Linked DNA regions of Homo sapiens. The protein of the gene in region 2 purifies or fractionates together with the protein of the main gene of each other region. This does not show direct contact. Each region holds a gene or a part of one and is shown on either strand. Other genes may lie near its edges.

What was found.
Region 1: the proteins of P4HA1 (region 2) and CPSF3 purify together in Homo sapiens (affinity purification with mass spectrometry; 2 studies listed by BioGRID and IntAct, with this or other methods). This does not show direct contact.
Region 3: the proteins of P4HA1 (region 2) and FIP1L1 purify together in Homo sapiens (affinity purification with mass spectrometry; 2 studies listed by BioGRID and IntAct, with this or other methods). This does not show direct contact.

The regions. Positions count from the first base shown.
Region 1 is NC_000002.12:9,468,251-9,473,667, reverse strand, and holds the end of CPSF3 (cleavage and polyadenylation specificity factor subunit 3), read right to left. Parts: intron 2,326-5,417; coding exon 2,229-2,325; intron 753-2,228; coding exon 651-752; 3' UTR 567-650; downstream 1-566. UniProt on the Homo sapiens protein: Component of the cleavage and polyadenylation specificity factor (CPSF) complex that plays a key role in pre-mRNA 3'-end formation, recognizing the AAUAAA signal sequence and interacting with poly(A) polymerase and other factors to bring about cleavage and poly(A) addition.
Region 2 is NC_000010.11:73,093,730-73,102,177, forward strand, and holds the start of P4HA1 (prolyl 4-hydroxylase subunit alpha-1 isoform 2 precursor), read right to left. Parts: upstream 3,138-8,448; 5' UTR 3,037-3,137; intron 1-3,036. UniProt on the Homo sapiens protein: Catalyzes the post-translational formation of 4-hydroxyproline in -Xaa-Pro-Gly- sequences in collagens and other proteins.
Region 3 is NC_000004.12:53,372,700-53,380,761, forward strand, and holds the start of FIP1L1 (pre-mRNA 3'-end-processing factor FIP1), read left to right. Parts: upstream 1-4,941; 5' UTR 4,942-5,139; coding exon 5,140-5,224; intron 5,225-6,373; coding exon 6,374-6,418; intron 6,419-6,525; coding exon 6,526-6,565; intron 6,566-8,062.

The DNA.
Region 1 (5,417 bases), on a different chromosome or scaffold from region 2:
GCCCTCATTCCAGCCGGACTAACTCACCTCCTGGTGGCAGGACTTGGGCACAGGTGCACTTGTGATGCACCCCACGTGATTCCCACGGGTAGCCCAGATTGAGAGCCCCTGCTAGAGCAAGCAAAGGTGCCTGGACTTCATCTTTATCACAAGGACTTCATTAAGGCCTTCAAGCAGCAGAGGCTTGAGGCCAGGTCTGTTCCAGGAATCAGCTATAGGGGAGGAGATGGAGGTGGTTGCAGGAATTCAGAGGGGAGAGTAGACTTGGACTCGAACAGCAGCAGTGGAGATGAAGACAGAAAAGATTCAAGTGCAACTTAGAATCCTTATTATTAACTCAAATTGGTTACCCCAGAGGAGAGGGTAACCAGCAGCGGTTGCTATCGGCAGATCTTGATGGTTTCAATGGGAGCTGCACATACATGCCTGGAAGAAGAATCCAAAATTCTAAAATAATGGGCAGTTGATCTAGTAGTTAGTTCTAGAATAATGGACAAATTAATTAGCAATTTAGCAGTATTCAGGCTGTTGAAATAAAGGCCATTTGACATTAAAAGTAAACAGGCTCCCCCAGAGAAACGAATGCATTTTATTTTAGGTAACAAAAGTAGAGTCAAGTATTTTTTCAAAGTTCATATACAGGCACAGTCTCAGTGAACTGGCGTCAGGGCCTCGTACAGTCTCTGTGCAGCCAGCTCCACCATTTCTCGGAGGGATTCATCGTCTTCACTTCCCTCTTCACATTCTACAGTCTGAAAGTGAGGCACAAACAAGACTGTTAGAATTAAGTCTATAATGATTATATAGAAGATAAATGAATACTCTTTAAAAAAACCATCATCTCATAAAAAATTAGCCAGCTGTGGTGGCGTGTGCCTGTGGTCCCAGATAAGAGTCTGAGGTGGGAGGATCACTGAGCCGGGAAGGTTGAGGCTGCAGTGAGCTGTGACTGCACCACTGCACTCCAGCCTGGGCGGCACTGCGAGACCGGGTCTCAAACTAAAAAAAAGAACAATCATCTGTGTGTGCAGAGGTCATGGTGGGACTGATTACCATGAAACAGAACGGCCGCCCTACACACTTGTGGGCGTGCAGTGCTTCCTGACAGCAGCACGGTCCTAATTAGTGATGACTTGAGGCTGGGGTGAAAGACTGGGGAAAGTCTAGTAAACTACATTTACATCAAAGCCCACAGTTTGATCTAGTAAATGATACTCCAGGGAAGTTCATCTATGCCACACAAATTACTTGGCAAGGAATGGATGTGGCTATCTACTCAACATTTGGTACTGAATTTGACTGAAACTCACTAATAATCTTCTAGTTGCTTCTTTTTTTTTTTTTTTTTGAGACAGAATCTCGCTCTGTCGCCCAGGCTGGAGTGCAGTGATGTGATCTCAGCTCACTGCAACCTCTGTCTCTTGGGTTAAGGTGATTCCTGGGTTCTCCTGCCTTAGCCTCCCAAGTAGCTGGGATTACAGGCACACCACCACGCCTGGGTAATTTTTGTATTTTTAGTAGAGATGGGGTTTCATCATGTTGGCCAGGCTGGTCTCAAACTCTTGACCTCAGATGATCCACCCACCTTGACCTCCCAAAGTGTTGGGATTACAGGCGTGAACCACCACGCCTGGCCTCTAGTTCTTTTTTTTTTTTTTTTTGGAGACAGAGTCTCGCTCTATCATCCAGGCTGGAGTGCAGTAATGTGATCTTGGCTCACTGCAACCTCTGCCTCCCTGTTTCAAGCAATTCTCCTGCCTCAGCCTCCTGAGTAGCTGGGACTACAGGCAGCTGCCGCCATTCCCGGCTAATTTTTTTTGTATTTTTTAGTAGAGATGGGGTTTAACTGTGTTGCCCGGGCTGGTTTTGAACTGTTTGGAAAATCCACTTGGATCTTGCTGGTGCAAACAGAAGAGCGGCTTCTTTAAAAAATGGAGAGTCAACTAGATGCCAAACTAGAGAAGGGATGAGGTGAACTAAGCTGTATTATGGAAGAGGACAGCAATGGAGTGGCATACACGCGAACCTTGTACTATGCAGTAACCCGGAAAAACACGGAAAACTTCAACCATAATAATATAAAAAGAACAATGTGAAAAAAATGTTGGAAACACTGGAAGCAAATGCCAATATGCAACAGTAGACTGTTGAGTGTGAGAGCACAGATTATTTATGCCTTCACTTTATTTCCCAAATGTCTTGAAACGTAGGAAAGAGCAGCTACATACCCGTGTCTCCAAGTTAAGGTTGGCAGTTTTCCCGTCCACTGTGACGCTAAGAATAGAGTCATCCTTTACACTTACACAGTCTTCTCCAAATATGTCCCTGAAAATAAGCAGAAATGCAGGATTAGTGAAAATGCCCGGCTTTATATATTTGAGGAAAAAATAAAACTGAAGATAGGTCCTAGTTCTAAAGCAGAATACTGTATTTACTTTTTTTCTTTTTTTTTTTGAGATGGAGTCTTGCTCTGTGGCCCAGGCTGGAGCGCAGTGGCACAATCTTGGCTCACTACAACCTCCGCCTCCCGGATTCAAGTGATTCTCCTGCCTCAGCCTCCCTAGTAGCTGGGATTACAGGTGTGCACCACCACAGCCAGCTAATTTTTGTATTTTTAGTAGAGTCAGGGTTTCACCATGTTGGCCAGGCTGGTCTTGAACTCCTAGCCTCAAGTGATCCACCTGCCTTGGCCTCCCAAAGTGTTGGGATTACAGGCAGGAGTCACCATGCCCAGCCTGTATTTACTTTTGAGACAAGCTTCTTATTTGCCTTGATACAGCTTATTAAGTTTATAAAACAGGGAAAATACACAGCTTTATTCAAGAATGATCTATTCAGCAGGCATCATGCTAGGTGGTTTATATACATTATCTTAACCTATAATTTTAGTAAGGATCCCCTTTTACATGTGAAGAAAACAAGACACAGAAGTTAAGTGATTTGCTTAAAGCCTCACAGCTAGTAAACAGCTGAGCCGGCATTCAAATCCAGGTATCTAGGTTTAAATGGCTCCCAAGCCCACTAGCTGTGCACTCCTACTTTAATTAAACTTGGTATTTATTGAGCATCTTCTGTGTGGCAGATTCCTTCTGTGCTAGTAGCTGGGGATAAAGAAGGCACTAAGACATTGCCTCTGTCATCGAGAGAAACAGTTTTGATGGTTAATTTCAACATCGTCCCCATTGGTACAGAGGTGTTAGGAAACAGCAGTCCACCAGCAGGCTGAATGCAGGTAAGAAAGGCAGGCAGTGACTCTAAACAACCCATGGACCATGGTCAGCCTAGGACAGTTAAGCACTGACAACACTGTATTAAGCGGGGGAAGTGGGGAGTGGGAATCAACTCCTTGCATCTTCAGGCAGTTACTGCTCATCATATGTGTGAATAAACTTAGGTGGGACCCTAGCACAAAGGAAAAGATTATATTTTATTTTATTTATTTATTTTGAGACGGAGTCTTGCTTGTTGCCCAGGCTGGAGTGCAGTGTCCCGATCTCGGCCCACTGCAACCTCTGCCTCCTGGTTTAAGCAATTCTCCTCCCTCAGCCTCCTGAGTAGTTGGGATTACAAGCACCCACCACCACACCTGGCTCATTTTTGTATTTTTAGTAGGGGTATTTTGGATGGGGTTTTGCCATGTTGGCCAGGCTGGTCTCGAACCCCTAACCTCAAGTGATCCACCTGCCTTGGCTTCCCAAAGTGCTGGGATTACAGGTGTGGGTCACCACACCCAGCCAAAAAAATTATATTTTAAACACAGAAATGTATTCAAAAGGATAGGAAAAAAGGTTCCATTTTCATGTGATCCACTGTTGGCTTCTCTGAAGAAACCAATACATCTACTCCTATCTAATCCTAAGTGTTTAAACAACTGGGGAAATAGCTGCATTTTTAAGGGTACGATTGGCTTTGAAGTTTAAGGACATGGGAACCTCCCATTCCTGGCCGAATGGAAGCTGTCTCATACTCCTGTTCCTCAGAGTTGAATAGTTCTGGTGTGTTTGTGGGAGGTGAGGGAGAGGGAGGGGAGGCGGGAGGAGTGGTGTCAGGAGGACAGGGAAGAAGGCCAGAGTGAAAGTCCAGTGGAAGGGCCGCAGCCTCCCGCAGACTGCCCTCCCCACGGCTCCTGAGGACCAGCCACAGCAATGTGAACTTCCATTCTGCACCCCGACTGCAGCACGTGGGAGAGCGGGGCCAGTCCAGGGCCACACGGGTTTTCTATTCTTGTAGAGCCCCAGGGAACAGGGCCGCCAACAGAACTATTGTAGTCAAGTCCCTGGTCAGCAACACCCACCTTCTACAATAGGGCTGTTTAACCGGGGGTCCCAGGATAGCCTGTGGGGAGGGGGTTGTCTAACCTCCTTGAAATCAAAGGTAAAACTGCATATATGTGTGTCCCCTGCCCCCGCCCCACAGCCTTACCTGACTGCCAAAGGGGTGAAGGATCTAAAAATGATTAAGATACTCAGACTTCAACGCTGGCAGACTTGAGCCCTCTGCAAAATGAGTTAAGAGAACCAGAGGCTCCAGGGGTGGGAACCAGTAAAATCTCTGGCCTTTTCAACGGCCATGGTAATCACTGTGCCTGCACTGTTGGCTGGTTTTGTATGAGGAATGCTCTTTAAAATCAAAATGACAACACAGAGAATACTGTTTTGAAGATGTATGACAACTTCTATAAACAAAGTCATCATTTAAAGTCTATCATTTTTTTTTAAAGCCACTAAACTGCTGCTTTAGTGGGCCGGGCACGGGGGTTCACACCTCTAATCCCAGCACTTTGGGAGACCAAGGCAGGTGGCTCATGAGGTCAGGAGTTCGTGACCAGCCTGGCCAATATGGTGAAACCCTGTCCCTACTAAAAATACAAAAATTAGCTGGGTGTGGTGGGCATGCGCCTATAGTCCCACTTGCTCGGGAGGTTGAGGCAGGAGAATCGCTTGAACCCGAGAGGTGGAGGTTGCAGTGAGCTGAGATTGTGCCACTGCACTCCAGCCTGGGCGACAGAGTGAGACTCCGTCTCAAAAAAAAAAAAAAAAAAAAAAAAAGGTCAGTGTAGAATTTTGGGGAAAGAAAGGAAGGAACAGAAATGTTAGCATAAAAGCCTTCTAAACTAGCAGGCCACCTTACTTTGTTAAACCGTTTCATGGGGCAAGGGCTCACATCTGTAATTCCAGCATTTTGGGAAGCCAAGGCAGGAGGATCCCTTGAGCCCAGGAATTTGAGACCAGCCTGGGCAACATAGGAAGTCCCTGTCTCTCCAGAAAAATAAAATTAGCTGGGCATGGTGTTGCGAGCCTGTGATCCCAGCTACTTGGGAGGCTGAGGCGGATTGCTCGAGCCTGGGAGTCAAGGCTGCAATGAGCCAAGATCATGCCACTGTATTCCAGTCTGGGCAATGGAGCAAGACTCTATCT
Region 2 (8,448 bases):
CTACTCGGGAGGCTTAGGCAGGAGAATGGCGTGAACCCGGGAGGTGGAGCTTGCAGTGGGCCGAGATTGCACCACTGCACTCCAGCCTGGGTGGCAGAGTGAAACTCCATCTCAAAAAAAAAAAAAAAAAAAAAAAAAAAAAAAATATATATATATATATATATATATATATATATATACACACACACACACACACACATACTCATTTTATTTGGATTTTTTATATATATTCATATATTTATACACACACAACACATTATGGTTTAATTACAAGATTCAAGATCTCACTGCAAGAAAAGCAATAAAGTTTAATGCCAAGAGCCTATGCAATTTATTTTTGTTTACTTCCAAGCCTGTTCCACTTTCAGAATGGAAAACCAAAGTTAAGTTACCATATATAGGAGAGGGCATGCAATGTGATATACTTTCACAGACTAGACAATTTAGCATTTCAACAATTCTAACAACCTATTAACTTTTGTTAAAACCCTTTTGGCAAAAATGTATTAGGGTCACCCACATATACAAGTCCAGTCAGACTTACATGCCCAGCTCGATTTTCAGAAACATTCAATACTGCCTCAAGACACCTAGATACCCTTAGAGAGTAACTTCACATCTCTTACTTTTTAGGGGTTCTTATAATAAAGTTCATGAATGGACTTGAGTGGGGGGGCAGGAAGTGACATACAAAATTCCATGTAGGGTGTATTTGCATTTTCTGACATAGGACCACACCTTTCATCAGATTCTCAAAGGATTTCATGACCTTAAAATAGTTTGAGAACCACTATTATGTATCTCACAGGTCAATTCAAGAGCAATAATTATATCCTAGTTGATAACTGGTTGCTAAGTAAAATAAAGCATTCCTTCCACAGAAAGGAAGGCTCACAAGCTTTATGGCTGTCCCAGCTCTTGCTGCATCTCTGGAATAAATGCCGTTTGAACTTAATTGCCCTACTGAAAAACACTGCTTTTCAGTATACAACTTATTCTGCACTAATAGAAAAGGTTAACAGCTCCTTGCCAAAAAGCCAAGATTCATCTGCAACAACCCAGACTACAAGGCAATATAAAACTTTTTTTCAATAGTCTTTTGCACTAATTTTTTTGGCATAATTAAAAGTTGTACACATTTTTCAACTGTTTTACCATCTAAGTTACCAAAACACAAAATGGCCAATGTAATTATCCGCCTACCAAAGTCCTGATTTTCAGTACTTCAAAATAAAACTCATTTCAAAATGTCAATAAAAACAGCACTACCCATTTAAAAGAGACAGAAATAGTCCTTTTCCTAGTTAGTCTATGTAAATCTAAGAAACATTTGTCATCAGCTATCAAAAACAATGGCAGGACTTAAGGCACAATGTCCCAAAACCAAAACTGACTATGAATTTTATTAAAGGTAAGTGATAAAGTCTCTTTTCCCACATAAAGAAAAAAGTAAAATTTGAAGTTCACATTTCAGATTCTTAAATTACGCTCACAAGCTAAAAAAAAAAAAAAAAAAAAAAAAAAATCACGGGGTGTGTATTCACATTTCACATGAAGACAAAATATAGTTGAGGTTGTTCACTTTCAGCTTCTTGAATATATCGTCTTAGGATACCGATTTTCTCCATAGAAACTTGATTCTAAAAATCCCTTTAAAATGTTTTTTAAATTAACTTCCAACGTTCCTGCTATGCAGACTGAATTCTTCATCTGATTATTTTAGGAAAAGACTAGCCTCATTCATAAGCTACGTCTAAACCTAAAAGGGGAAATACGTTTCTAACCAGAACTTTAAAAAAAAAAAAAAAAAAGAGTAAAAAATTGATGAAAGAACGCTGCTGCCACGTCTTTGCCCCTCCCCCCTTCACGTAGTGGCTATTTCATCCCCTCCGAGTGCATTCCAAGCGAAAGTCCGAGAACCACTGCTCTCGGAGAAACCAGAAACAGTTAAGTGGAAATTGGCAAGTCTCTTTGGCCTTTTAGATCAATTCCTAAAAGAGGATCTAGCTGCTTCTTCAACCCTTTCTTAAAGAAAACAGTGCAAAATTCCAAGAGTCTTCACTCTATCCGGAACGCGTAAGATGTTAGTGTCTAAACATTGAATTTGTATGTAACAGAGTCGATTATTTAGGAGAAAGAGTCTCACAGTTATCATACCATCCTTCCTCCCCATTGAAACATACATCCGGGGGCCAGCCATGTAATCCAACTCAAAATCCTCACACAACCATGGAATTTGTTGGACTGATGTGGACTTTTAAAAGCTGCAAATTCTCGGCAGAGAGAGACAGAGAGACAGAGATTGAGAGAAGAGCTCTTGTCTCTTTTTAAAAAAAGTTATGGGGAAGAAGAGGGAAGGAAGCTTCCCTGACGACGAGGTGACCTGAGAGCCTACTTCCTCGGCGCTACGAGCAGAAAGCTCGGCGCCCCGGGCTACGTCTGGCAGCTAATGCTGCACCGCTGCGCGCAACAGATGAGTTCAGCCGGAACTTTCTGGGGAGGTCCCCCCAGCTCCCGGCGACTTTCGATAGGGCAAAAATGCCTGGCGCGCTGCGGATCCAGCTCCAAGCCTTAAAATCCGCTCTCCACCGCCACATGCGAACCATCTGCGGCTGTGGCGGCCAAAAGCCCACGCCCCGCGCTTGCGTTCCCCTTAGCCTCGTTAGGGAGGACCAGGTGCAGGGGAACTTGGAAAAAAAAAAAAGCAACAGAGTGATTCCTCCCCGGGAAGGAAAATTCAAGAAAGTCCTGGTCCCTAGGGCGGGGACTGAGGCTGCAGCAGCCCCAGCGGTCCGAGGCGCACTAGGGACAGAGGTGGGAAGGGGGGCACGAAGGAGCGCGGGCGCCGGGAGTCGCGTGGCGCAGGGAGAGGGGCCGAGTCTCCCGAGGGGAAGGAACCGAGGCTGCTGTGGTAACCTGGGGAACCCCCGCCCCAGAAGTACCACCACAGCGGGAAGGAATGGATCGCCGCAGCCGTCCGAGAAGGTCCACGGCTGCCCAGTGGCCTCAGTCTCCGGGATCGAGGGAGCGTCTCACCTGGAAAGTGGGACGAGAGGGCGGCGCGCTCTTCAGCCCCCAGTCGCCTCCACTCGGAGCGGCTACTTCCTACCCTCAGCCCGCTGGCGGCGCGACTGGGCAGCAGAGGGAGCCCGTTAGCCCTTTTATAACCTCTAGGCCGCGATGGCAGCGCCAGGGAGGAGGCGACTGCAGCCCTCGCTACGTGAGCTCGATCACACCAGCGCCCCGGCGACTGCGCAGGCGCCAAGCCCGTGCCTCCCTGCTGCCCCCACCCGTGGCCGGCCCGTGGAGTCTGAGGCCGAGAGGAGTGGCTGGGACCGGCCGCCGTGGTGTGGGTAAGCGGGAGTGGGATGTAACGCGCCTGCGCAGGGTTCTCGCCCCGCCACCGTTACCGTGGTTACCACGGGGTTTCCCCCGCTCCTGTTCAGTTTGCCTCCTTGATTTCAGGGTCCGCGTCAGGCCTAAGCGACGAGGCCGCCGGCAATAAAGTATCTTAAAAATGAGAAGAGGAACGTGGGAGTGTAGAAAATAAAGCAGAATTTTTCTAGGGTGGAAAATAATAGAGATTCAGTCTTGGTATCTCAGCTGTCTTGTTCCTCTCACATCTCAGCACTCATTTTATACTAATCGTGCTCTATCTCCTACCTTTATACCTTATCAGTAGATAATAGACTAAGAGCTCCAGGGTCAGGTTATCTCAATTCAAATCCTGCCTCAATCCTGTGTGTAACACTAGGCATTAACAACCTCTCCGTATCCGTTTACTCATCTGTAAAATAGAAATGACGGTACTACCCATCTTGTAAGATTCTTGTGAGAATAAAATGAGATAATGTATGTAAAGCACTTAACACATGCCTCACACACAGAAATGACTTAGTAAATATTAGATTCTCCAGTAACATTAATTTATATAAGGCACCCAATGTTGCGTTTGATCTTAGTCTAACATTTGCCTTAGTTATAAAGTAACCCCAAACCAAGGGTTTCTTTATATCTCCCTGTACTATGAGGGAGAATACAATGAAGAAGATAATTTTTTCCTTGTCAGTTAAAGAGAAAAATGAGTTGCTAAGACTTGTTATTCATTAAGAATTGTGGTTTCTAAAGTTTTCCATGTATGCTAAAAAGTATAGCAATAATTAACATTTGACTTACGCAGGAGGTGAGTGATTATATAGCTACAGAAAGAGAGAGAGGGTACTCTGGGAGCACTAGGCAACTAAAAAGTAGATATAATGATGTCTAAATCAATGGTTCTGAAAGCGTAGTCAGGGAATCCATAAGGTCAAAATTATTTTCATACTAAGACTTTATTTTCATACTAAGACTTACTGCCTTTTTCACTCTAATAACAATACAGTGAGGTCTTCCAGAGACTACATGCCTGTGATACAGATGGAACGCAGACACAGATATGAGAATCTTCTATTAGCCCAGACACTGAAGAGATTTGCAGAAATGTAAAATAATGCCACTCTTCTCACTAAATTATTTTGCTTTGGAAAATAGTTATTTTTCATTAAAAATATGTTATTAGGCCAAATGAAGTGGCTCACACCTGTAATCCCAGCACTTTGGGAGGCCGAGGCGGGAAGATCACCTGAGCCCAGGAGTTCGAAATCAGCCTGGGCAACATGGCCAGACCCTCTCTCAAAAAAAAAGTTATTTATGTTATGTTAACATGTAACAGGTTTATTATTGTTGTTTTAAATGAATAAATATTTTATATGTTTGTTTTAATTCCTAATATAGTAAATGTTGATAAATATGATCCACATAAAAGCTTTTTGGAGTCCTCAATACTTTTTAGGAGTATAAAGTAATTATAAGACCAAAGAGGCAGGGCGTGCGGTGGCTCACACCTGTAATCCCTGCACTTTGCGAGGCCAAGGCAGACGGATCACAAGGTCAGGAGATCAAGACCATCCTGGCCAACATGGTGAAACCCTGTCTCTACTAAAAATGCAAAAATTAGCTGGGCATGGTGGCAAACACCTGTAATCCCAGCTACTCAGGAGGCGGAGGCATGAGAATCATTTGGACCCAGGAGGCAGAGGTTGCAGTGAGCTGAGATCACACCATTGCACTCCAGCCTGGGGACAGAGTCAGACTCCATCTCAAAAAAAAAAAAAAAAACTTCCTCAAATGGAGCTGTAATCAACATATTCACTAGCCCTACATAGAGCTGACTCTGAAAGTTGACAGTTTACTCAGTAATTAAAATGGCCGTAGACTCTGAAGCAGATTTACTGTGAAGCTAAGGAGGCTTCAGCTTCAGGTGCCCTCATTTACACTAGCCCTTTCCAAGTCCCTGGAAGGGTCCCTAGTAATATGTTCACACTGTCCTATGCTTCTGTAAAATTTATAAAAGTAATGTATTTTAAACTGCAATCTTTAGTCCTTAGTGACTTCCCTCCACCATGTTTCCCTTTGTCTAGTGTTGGAGTGGCAAGCAAACATTTTTGAAATTTAGCTAAAGGGAAGTTGAGTTAGGAATACATTTGGTTTGAATTTACTGGGATATATTTTTATAACCCACAGTCACTTCCATGTGTAGTTAAGATATTGCCAGCTGTCCCAGTGGCTTCCAAGAATACTCCAATTGCCCGTTGTGCTGATCCACCCAGCATTGCAAAACAAAGGTGCAGGGCCAGAACTCTTGAAGTTATTTTAATGTGTCCAATGTTCTAGCATCAAAAACTATGTGAATAGTAGAAGAGAAGCAGGGTTGAAATTTTGGGAACCTGAAGCTAATCTGTGGGAAATTATTCCAATTATTGGATGTGTAAAATTGTAAAGATTTAGCATTCATCAATACCTAGCCAAAAAAGTGTTGTTTTTTTCTTAGAGACAGGGTTTCACTCTGTCACCCAGGCTGGAGTGGAGTTGCATGATCATAGCTCACCGTAACCTCCAACTACTGCGCTCCAGCGATCCTCCCACCTCCCAAGTAGCTGGGACTACAGGCCTGCACGACCATGTCCGGGTTTTCTGTAGGATTTTGTTTTGTTTGCAGAGACAGGTCTCACCATGTGTCCAGGCTGGTCTTGAACTCCTGGGTTCAAGCAATCCTCCCACCTAGGCCTCCCAAAGTGCTGCAATAACAGTCATGAGCTGTGGGGCCCTGCCCAAAAAAGAAATTTATATTTTTTTCTCAGAACTTGATGAGGACATCCACAACAAACTAAAGAGTGTCATTAGTTTAAAGAAATCTGATGGGTCCTGAACTCTTTTTAAGTCATATATTAAATAATCTTTTGGAAGCCGGATGTGGTGGCTCTCCCAGGTAATTGCAGAACTTTGGGAGGCCCAGGTGGGAGGATCTATTAAGGCCAGAAGTTTGAGACCAGCCAGGGCAAGATGGTGAGACCTTACCTCTACAAAAAAAGTTTTTTTAATTAGCTGGGTGTGGTGATATGTGTCTGTAGTCCCAGCTATTCAGGAGGCTGAGGCTAGAGGATCAGGATATAGGATGCAGCAAGCTGTGGTCTCACTACTGCACTCCAGCCTGGGCAACAGAAAGAGATCCTGTGTCTAAATAAATAAATAGCTTATTGGAGATTTTTCAAAACTGGACAACAAGCCTAATAATTTATATGACATTACCAACAATGAGTTGTGAACTTTAATCAATCACATATGCTATGTGAATTAGAAGAGAAAGAGAGTCTAGGTTAGTAATTCAAGATTCATAGAATAAATATTTATAGAACACCTACCTTCTGTGTCCAAGACACTGCCTACTGAGCTGTGGAAGATCAAACTTTAATTAGACAATCTCTGCTTTTAAGGAGCTTATAATCTTTGTTGAAAAGAATTAAAACCTGCACTGTGGCAATAGAAATTCATTCATCCATAAATAATTGCCTGCCCATATAAGCCAGACTATGGTAAGTGCTGGGTATATGATTCCTGCTGTTGTAGAATTTGGAGTCCTTTGAAGAAAACCTACAACATAAAAATGTATGTTTCAGCTGGGCATGGTGGCTCACACCTGTAATCCAAGCACTTTGGGAGGCTGAGGTGGGTGGATCACCTGAGGTCAGGAGTTCGAGACCAGCCTGACCAATATGTTGAAACCGCACCTCTACTAAAAATATAAAAACTAGCCAGGCATGGTGGCGTGCACCTGTAATCCCAGCTACTCTGGAGGCTGAGACAGGAGAATTGCTTGAACCTGGGAGGCAGAGGTTGCAGTAAGCTGAGATCACACCACTGCACTCCAGCCTGGACAACAGAGTGAAAAAGAAAAAAAAAAAGTATGTATGTACAACATTAAAAAACATACACACACAAATATACGTACATACACATTTGACAAGTGAAAATAATAAGGAAACCAGGTGTGGCTCACACCTGTAATCCCAGTACTTTGGGTGGCCGAGCTGGGTGGATCACCTGAGGTCAGAAGTTCGAGACCAGCCTGGCCAACATGGTGAAACCCCCATGTCTGTTAAAAAAAAAATACATATATATATATATGAAAATTAGATGGACATCATGGCGCATGTCTGTAGTTCCAGCTACTCGGGAGGCTAAGGCACAAGAATCACTTAAAACCGGGAGGTGGAGGTTGCAGTGAGCTGAGATCATGCAACTGCCCTCCAGCCTGGATAACAGAGTGAGATTCCATCTAAAAAAAAAAAAAAAAAAAAAAGGCTTGGTGCGGTGGCTCACAACTGTAATCCCAGAACTTTGGGAGGTGGAGGCAGGCGGATCACAACGTCAAGAGATTGAGACCAGCCTGGCCAACATGGTGTAACCCCGTCTCTACTAAAAATACAAAAATTAGCTGGGTGTGGTGGTGCGCGCCTGCAGTCCCAGGTACTCGGGAGGATGAGGCAGGAGAATTGCTTGAACCCAGGAGGCAGAGGTTGCAGTGAGCCAAGGTTGTGCCATGGCACTCCAGCCTGGCAACAGAATGAGACTCCATCTCAAAAAAAAAAAAAAAAATATATATATATATATATATATATATATGGCCAATAAACATGTTTGGCGGGGCACAGTGGCTCATACCTGTAATCTCAGCACTTTGGGAGGCCAAGGCGGGCAGATCACCTGAGGTCAGGAGTTCGAGACCAACCTATCCAACATGGTGGAACCCGGTCTCTACTAAAAATACAAAAAAAAAAATTAGCTGGGTGTAGTGGTGCACGCCTGTAGTCCCAGCTACTTGGGAGGCTGAGGCAGGAGAATTGCTTGAACCCCAGATGCGGAGGTTGCAGTGAGCCAAGATTGTGCCATTGCACTCCAGCCTGGGCAACAAGAGCAAAACTCCGTCTCAAAAAAAAAAAAAAATGAAATCATCAGGGTGCTCTGGGAAAGAAGAAGGCGAGGGACATGGCTTAGATTGATATCACAAGAAAAGTATCACTATAGAAATGACATTTAAACTGAGAACTGAGTTAGCTAGATGAAGTGTGT
Region 3 (8,062 bases), on a different chromosome or scaffold from region 2:
ACCTCATCTCTACTAAAGATACAAAAATTGGCTGGGCATGGTGACATGAACCTGTAATCCCAGCTACTGGGGAGGCTGAGGCAGGAGAATTGTTTGAACCTGACAGGGGGAGGTTGTAGTGAGCCAAGATCATGCCACTGCACTCCAGCCTGGGTGACAGAGTGAGTCTCCGTCTCAATAAATAAGTAAATACATACATACATATGTACATAAATAAAAGTCATGAAGCTGGAGGAAATGACTTGGGAGACAGGGTGGACAGAAAAGGTAGGAGAGCCCAGGCAAAAGTCATTTCTTGCTTTCAGATGTTATGGTGGAGTAAAATGAATTCCTATTAAAATGACCTGCTTAAGACCGTCATGTTTATTTTATTAAAATGTGATTTGTATTTCTCTGCTCAAAATAGTCAGCTATTGTTTCTCTTCTGTCCAAAATCCAACATATCTCTCTTCACCTCATTTCTAGGTCATCCATAGGCATGATCAGTTCTTAGCTTAAGAACTTTCCATGTACTTGATGTTGTAAGAGAGGACCTGGCAAATACAGAAATAAAACGATTTTGTTCTCACCTTTAAAAAGAGTATGCGAAGTTTACTGACAGCACAGACATGAATAGGAAATAATACAATTTTCCAGAAACAACTAGCAATAGAAAATTTATTTTTTCTTTTTTGATGAGCTAAACTTAGGACTAGGTAAAGTTTATTGTTAAAAGATGTCAGGATGTAGAGGAAGATGGCTAATTGGGGTTTAATTTATCATGGAAGTACATAAAGAGGAAGGAAAGCTCTACACACGTACAATTACTTTGCTTGTTCAAAGAAGAAAAGTCCTAAACAACATGTTACCTGCTTGTCAATAACTTGTCAAATGCTTTGACTTTTTTTTTTTTTTGAGACGGAGTCTTGCTCTGTCGCCCAGGCTGGAGTGCAATGATGGGATCTTGGCTCACTGCAACCTCCTCCTCCTGGGTTCAAGCGATTCTTCTGCCTCAGCCTCCTGAGTAGTTGGAATCACAGGTGCGTGCCACAATGCCCAGCTAATTTTTGTGTTTTTAGTAGAAACAATGTTTCACTATGTTGAGCAGGCTGGTCTTGAACTCCTGACCTCAGGTGATCCGCCTGCCTCGGCCTCCCAAAGTGCTGGGATTACAGGCGTGAGCCACCGTGCCTGGCTAGATGCTTTGACATTTGAAACCTCAATTTAGCTTTGTTATTCTTCCCCAATATTGGTACAAATGTCATTTTAATGTATCAATTTACTGCTGAGGAAACTTAAGAACATTGAGAATTTAAGAACATTGAAATTTATGTGACAGCAAAGAGCACAGTTGGGCATAAACATCATATGCATGCCAAACACATTTATGTGTACTTGCTATATATACTGGATAGTGAGCAAGGCATTTTTATTTGATCTCCAATTCTTGTCATCATTTAACTCATCATCATCTACTAAACACTCTCAGTACTTCTCAGAGATAAGTATATTAAAACTTATCTTTTAATTTTTTTTGCCAGAAACCAACAGACCACAAAACAACAATAAAATGGAAAACAAATAGAATATATGGAGCACTGTAGTTTGATAAGGTCATAATATAAGAAATGGAAGGAGGAATATATAATATCTTCAAACTACCTACCTTTGATGTCTCCCCTGGTGAGCAGGGAGAGAAAGATACCTTTAACTAAGAAAGCATATTCAGGCAAGAAACTCAGCTTAGAAGCAAGGAGGAAGAGGTCTTTTCAGAGTAGTTATTAGTGATTTATGTGCTTCTTTGCTTGTGGAAATCTTCATTTTCAAAGCTTAGCTCAAATGCTACCTCCACCACAAAAGCTATTCTAGTATTGTTCATCATTTCTTCAGTTATGTTTAAGCAATGCCTTGAAAGGCAGCTGAAAACAGAAAAAGATCCCTTAACAAAAGGCAATTGGTTTTCTCATGAAACCAATTAAATAAATAGAACGATCAATAGACAGGACTGTGAGTGATTGCCTTACGATACTCATAAACAGTCTATAAGACTTCATTCTATTACTTTCAACAGTGACCAAGAAGATTTACTCAGCGTTAAGCACTATACTAGGAATTGAAGTGATGGCTATGGGATGCCCTGTTTGGAGGTGGACTTGGTCTAGCGAAGAGCCTGAGGCAAACAGAAATATAGTCAAATAATTACTATACAGTGTGATAGGCACATGGCATAGAAGCAGCATGGTGTCTAGAAGGAGTGAGTTGCTCTGTCCCACTCACCCCCCAAATACATCTGACCTCATCTGCATTCTCTCTCACTCACTATACTTTAGCTACATTTTGAGTTTCTTGAACATGCCAAGTATGCTTCTACCTCAGGGCCTTTGCACTTCTTATTCCTCTGTTTGATAGTCTGTCACCCCGAAATCCACGGGGCTCACCTCCTGTCTCCATTCAAGTCTCTTGTATCACTTCATCAGAGTAGCTTTCCCTGACCACTCCATATAAAATTGCACCCCATCACTTCATTTTATATTGCTTACTCTTTTCACAATTCTTGTCATCATGACATATCATACGTTCATATGTTTATTATCTGACTCTCTTATTAGAATCAAAGCTCCACAAAAGAAAGAACTTTGTTTTATTCACTGTTGAATCTACATAGCTGGAAGAGTTCCTGGCAAAACAAATGGGAAGAGATAAAATGGGATTCAGGAAAGATTTCACAAAGGTGATTATACCCCCAGAGAGTTTAGAAGGATGCAAGAGATTATCATAAAAAGATAAGGGAGCTGGGAATAGCTGGCAGAAGTGTGTTCAAAGGTAAGAAAGATTAAAACCACATGGTTTGTTTAAATAATGTGAGATATTGGTTGGGCGTAAACCCTTCATTTGTGCTTCTATTACAACACATTCACCTCTTCTCTTGTAGGAGAGTTGTTTACTGCCCCTCTGTCTTTCTCAATAACTTCAGAGTTCTTTAAGGGGTGGGACTGTTTCACTCATGTCTTCATTTTCCAAGTTCTTAAACAGAGCAGATATTCTGTAATTGCTAAATAAATAAATGATAAAACAATATTTATTCATCAAGGAGCAAGAAAACTCATTTAGTTGTTCAATCAAAATGGATTTCTCTCTGTTGACAAGCGAATGCCCTGTTTGTAAACTTTATAAATGAAAGAGACCTCAGAGATCATCTAACTTGGCCTTTCCATTTTATAGATGAGAAAACTGAAGCATAGAAAGGTTGATTGCCTGACTATACAACCTGCTAGGTATAATGAAGAACTGAGGCCAGGCCTGGTGGCTCATACATGTAATCCCAGCACTTTAGGAGGCCTAGGTGGAAGGATTGCTAGAGACCACGAGTTCCAGACCAGCCTAGGCAACATGGTGAGACATTGTCTCTACAAAAAATAAAAAATTAGCCAGGTGTGGTGGCACCTGCTTGTCTGTAGTCCCAGGTACTCAGGAGGCTGAAGTGGGAGGACTGTTTGAGTCTGGGAGGTAGAGACTGCAGTGAACAGTGACCCTGCCACTGCATTTCAGCCTGGGTTACAGAGTAAGACTGTTTTTTAAACAAAACAAAACAAAACAAAACAAAACAAAACAAAACAAAAAAACAGGCCGGGCGTGGTGGCTCATGCCTGTAAGCCCAGCACTTTGGGACACCAAGGTGGGCAGATCACCTGAGGTCAGGAGTTCAAAACCAGCCTGGCCAAAATGGTGAAACCCCCTCTCTACTATAAATACAAAAATTGGCTGGGCATGGTGGTGCGTGCCTGTAATCCCAGCTACTTGGGAGGCTGAGGCAGAAGAATCGCTTGAGCCCAGGAGGTGGAGGTTGCAGTGAGCAGAGATCGCACCACTGTACTCCAGCTGGGCAACAGAGTGAGACTCCGCCTCAAATAAATAAACAAACAAACAAAAAACCTAGACAAACCTAGAGCTCCAGTTTGAACCATGGTATGTCATCTTTTCACTGGAAGATGTGCTTTCAGAAGCGGCCTGAACATTTGGTTTACCTATTAAAATAAAAACTGTACATACTTTATGATCTATCTTTGAGAAACAGACAAATCTGCAAGGAGCCGTGTGGATCTTCATTGTCATTTTTTGTTGTAGTTAAAAGTGTAAAGTCAAAAGCAATCTGGGTGTACATCAATGGAGAAATAGCCATATTCACTCTGTGATAGCCATACTATGCAATTTTATGAAGCACTTAAAATAGATATAGTTTGATTCATACTAAAATGAAAAAGAGCTCCAAGACACGGATGCTAAAAAAAAAGAAAAAAAAGGAAGTCGAAGGATGATACTATACTGTACTGTACTATTTAAGACTTGTCAATCTCAGGTTCTCCCACCAAAACAGCACAACACATGAAGTAAGTGTATAGGAAATTTCGGAATGATGAACTCCAAACAGGATATGCATCTGTAGCAAGGGCTACCTCCGGAGAGAAGGGTAGGGGAATGAGGCGGTCTTTGACCTTGACAGTAATTTATGGTTTTTAACAAGGAGAGTGCATTCTTCATCTATTAGTTTTGCTTTTGTTGGCTGTGAAAATTAATTTTTTGAGAAATAGTACTGATTGTGATTTCTTCTCTATTCAGTGAGGAAAGGGAGTGACAGGTAATGATTCTGTATCAAGGCTGATTAAAGAATAAAAGAAGGCCTTTCTGAAGATTAAAAAACAAATAAAAAGTTGAGAAGAAAGAGCACGAAGAGTAGAAGGGAACAATGGTGTACTCGCCAGCAATGGCAATACGGGTTATTAAAAAGAAGGGTGGGGGCGGGGAACCCTGGCCGACTCAGGACGCCACGGGAGGAAGCCACGCAAAATAGCAAACCGGGATCCTAGAGGGGCGGGGCCCACCTCAGCGCGCAGGCGCAACCAGGCCCAGGTGGCCGCCGCGGAAGCGAAGCCACCTATACGCGCCGCGCCGCTTGGGTCTCCTGCGCATGCGCAGACGGACCTGCGCTGGAGGCTTCATCTTTGCCGCCGCTGCCGTCGCCTTCCTGGGATTGGAGTCTCGAGCTTTCTTCGTTCGTTCGTCGGCGGGTTCGCGCCCTTCTCGCGCCTCGGGGCTGCGAGGCTGGGGAAGGGGTTGGAGGGGGCTGTTGATCGCCGCGTTTAAGTTGCGCTCGGGGCGGCCATGTCGGCCGGCGAGGTCGAGCGCCTAGTGTCGGAGCTGAGCGGCGGGACCGGAGGGGATGAGGAGGAAGAGTGGCTCTATGGCGGTACGAAACTTCCTGTCTCTGTCTCTCGGGTTCTCTCAGGCCTCCCCTCTTGGCCCTCAAACGGCCGGCGTCCCTGGCCTCTCGCGCCGCCGCTTCGGGCCTCTGGTTGGGAGTCCTGTCCGGCCTGACTTAGGCCGAGCGCGGCGTGCGCGTGCCCCCAGTCCCCGCGGCGGTCTCCCGCCTGGCCCACGCCCACCATGCGCATCCACCCCTGTGGCGGCCGGGCCGGGCTGGGGGGCTGTGACCGGTCCTGGCCCCCGGCTTCGCTGTGCTTTCCCCGAGGCGTCTCGATCGCCTAGCTGCTGCGCTCTTTACCCTTGTTTTTTTCTGTCGATTCTGAGGTGGTGGTTTTTGGTGTCTGTTTTTGCCCTGTGGCCTTAGGGTGCCCTTCCTGTCCCTTCTTTCAGAAACAGTCATTCTGTAATAATAGCTAAATAAAGTTAATGCTGTACAACTAACGTCTTGTTTCTTGATGGTCAGTTTGTATGGAATGCACCTGCAAGGGTACCTCCTTGTCTGAAAGTCGTGCTTTAAAAATAATTAATTAAGAGAGAGAGAGAGAAAGATGGCCCATAAAGAAAACTCTGAATGTCTCCTGTATTAAGGTGAAGTTATTCTTTTTTAAGAGACTACCGTTTAACCTACATCATGGAGGTATCTCATGACCCTTCGGCTTATAGTTTTCAGTGTCATCTCATGTATTTGTTTTTCTCAAAATAAATTTAATGCATCATGTACTTCTCTCTAGAAGGGTACTTGTTTGACATCTGGTTTTTAACTTTAAGTCACAATCCCTTCTTGCTTGTTAACACCAGATTTGAAAGTTAATGTTTGTTCCTTGCCTAAAACATATATTCTTGATTGTCTTTAGAATAGAATAGTAAAAGTGCACTTTGGGCACCATGCAGGTCCTTGATGATGTGACTTTGATAAACTTGTAAAAAAAAATCGTTTGGTGGCAAGATTTAGCATTAGTTACTACTCTTTGAAATGTGAATGTGTAGGATTTCTTTTACAAAGATCTGGAAATCTTCATTACCTCTTAAATTTAAGCTTATTTTTATAGCAGTAAAGTCTGATTTTTTTTTCCATAAAATAAGTATCTTGTTAAGTAATTATAAGGTGATCTAACTTTGGATGTGCTTATAGGCCCATGGGACGTGCATGTGCACAGTGATTTGGCAAAGGACCTAGGTTAGTGCTTGTGATGATCACTTCAGATTTTCATAATACTAGTTTCTTTAAGAGTGGTTTCTTTATTTTGTTTGCTTATTTATTTATTTGTTTATTTTACTTGGTAGATGAAAATGAAGTTGAAAGGCCAGAAGAAGAAAATGCCAGGTTAGTGAAATTTTCTGTTGATGCCTATTACACAGGTTGTGTGAAACAATGGTTCTGTCAGTTGTCAAAATTATTTTCTTACAATCATTGGCTTCATTACAACACTGACTTACAACATTTTGGAGGACATTGAATCCTTTAAGGATTATTCCAGTTTCAGGACCTAATCTTACGCCAATTCTATTTGTTGGTAGTTTAAAGGACAAAGTTTTTGAACTTAGGATTGGACTGATTTTACACTGTTAAGTAACTTGTTACTCTTAAGTGAATTCAGTAGTGAAGTATACAGTATAATCGTTAAGCTACTGATAAAAATATTTTAACTTAATTGAAAATGTTTTTAAGTAAATCAGGAACACTCCAAACTACTGCTTTTCCAGTTTATTAACATTTTTGATGATATAATGGCAGTTTGGTTGTAATTTCAATGCTATGTATTGTTTGCATTCAAAATGTAATTAGCTGATTTGTTATAAGGTTGATTTCTTTGTTAGATTGTAAGAAAGATGTAAGTGTTCATTTATAGAACATATACAGGGAGTCAGAATTTTACCCCAGATTTCAAAAAGCAAGCCATGTAAAGAAGTACATGGAGATGTCGGCTTTACCCTGACCACATGCATTAGTGTCTGTAATGGAGGGAGAGGTAGTTAGAAGATTTTAAGGAATATTTGGGTTTAAAAAGTGGAAGATATACAACTTCATACCGAGTAAGCTGCAATCGAAAAGATAAAACAGGTGTTAGTGAGGATATGGGGAAATAAAACCCTCATACACTTCTGGTGGGATTGTAAAATGGTGCAGCTGCTTTGAAGAACAGCCTGGCCATTTTCTCAAATGGTGAAACATGGAGTTACCATGTGAGTCCTCCACCTTAGAGGAATGAAAACATATTCAGACAAAAACTTGTACGTGAATATTCATAGCAGCATTATTCTTAATAGAAAGTGGAAAAAGAAAACCTCGCAGCTGCATCAACTGATGAATGGATAGATTAAATGTGTTATATCCATACAGCGGAATATTATTTGGCAAGGACAATAAAATGAAGTACTGGTAGATGTTACAACACGGATGAACCTTACAAATGTGGAAGCTAAAGATGTCAGTCCGTAGAGACAGATTAGTGGTTACTAAGAGTTGGGTGAGTGATTGCTAATGTATACAAAGTTCCTTTTGGGAGTGATGCATACATTCTGGAATTAGATAGTTGTGATGGTTGGACTATGTGACCATATTAAAACTCAGTTGTCCTGTTTGAATGGGTAGATTGTATAATATGTGAATTGCATCTCAAAGCTGTTACAACAAAAAATGGATAGAGGGAAAAAGTGAGAAATGGAAGTAGAAATAGCTTAGGAGGAGCTGAAACTACAGTTCAGCTTCCTTACCCAAAAAATCCCCTATAGTCTTTTCACTCATTGGTATATTATCTGAAATGTTATTTCATTTTAAAATTTATATATTCAACTCAGTTCCTAATTCTGATCTCAACCA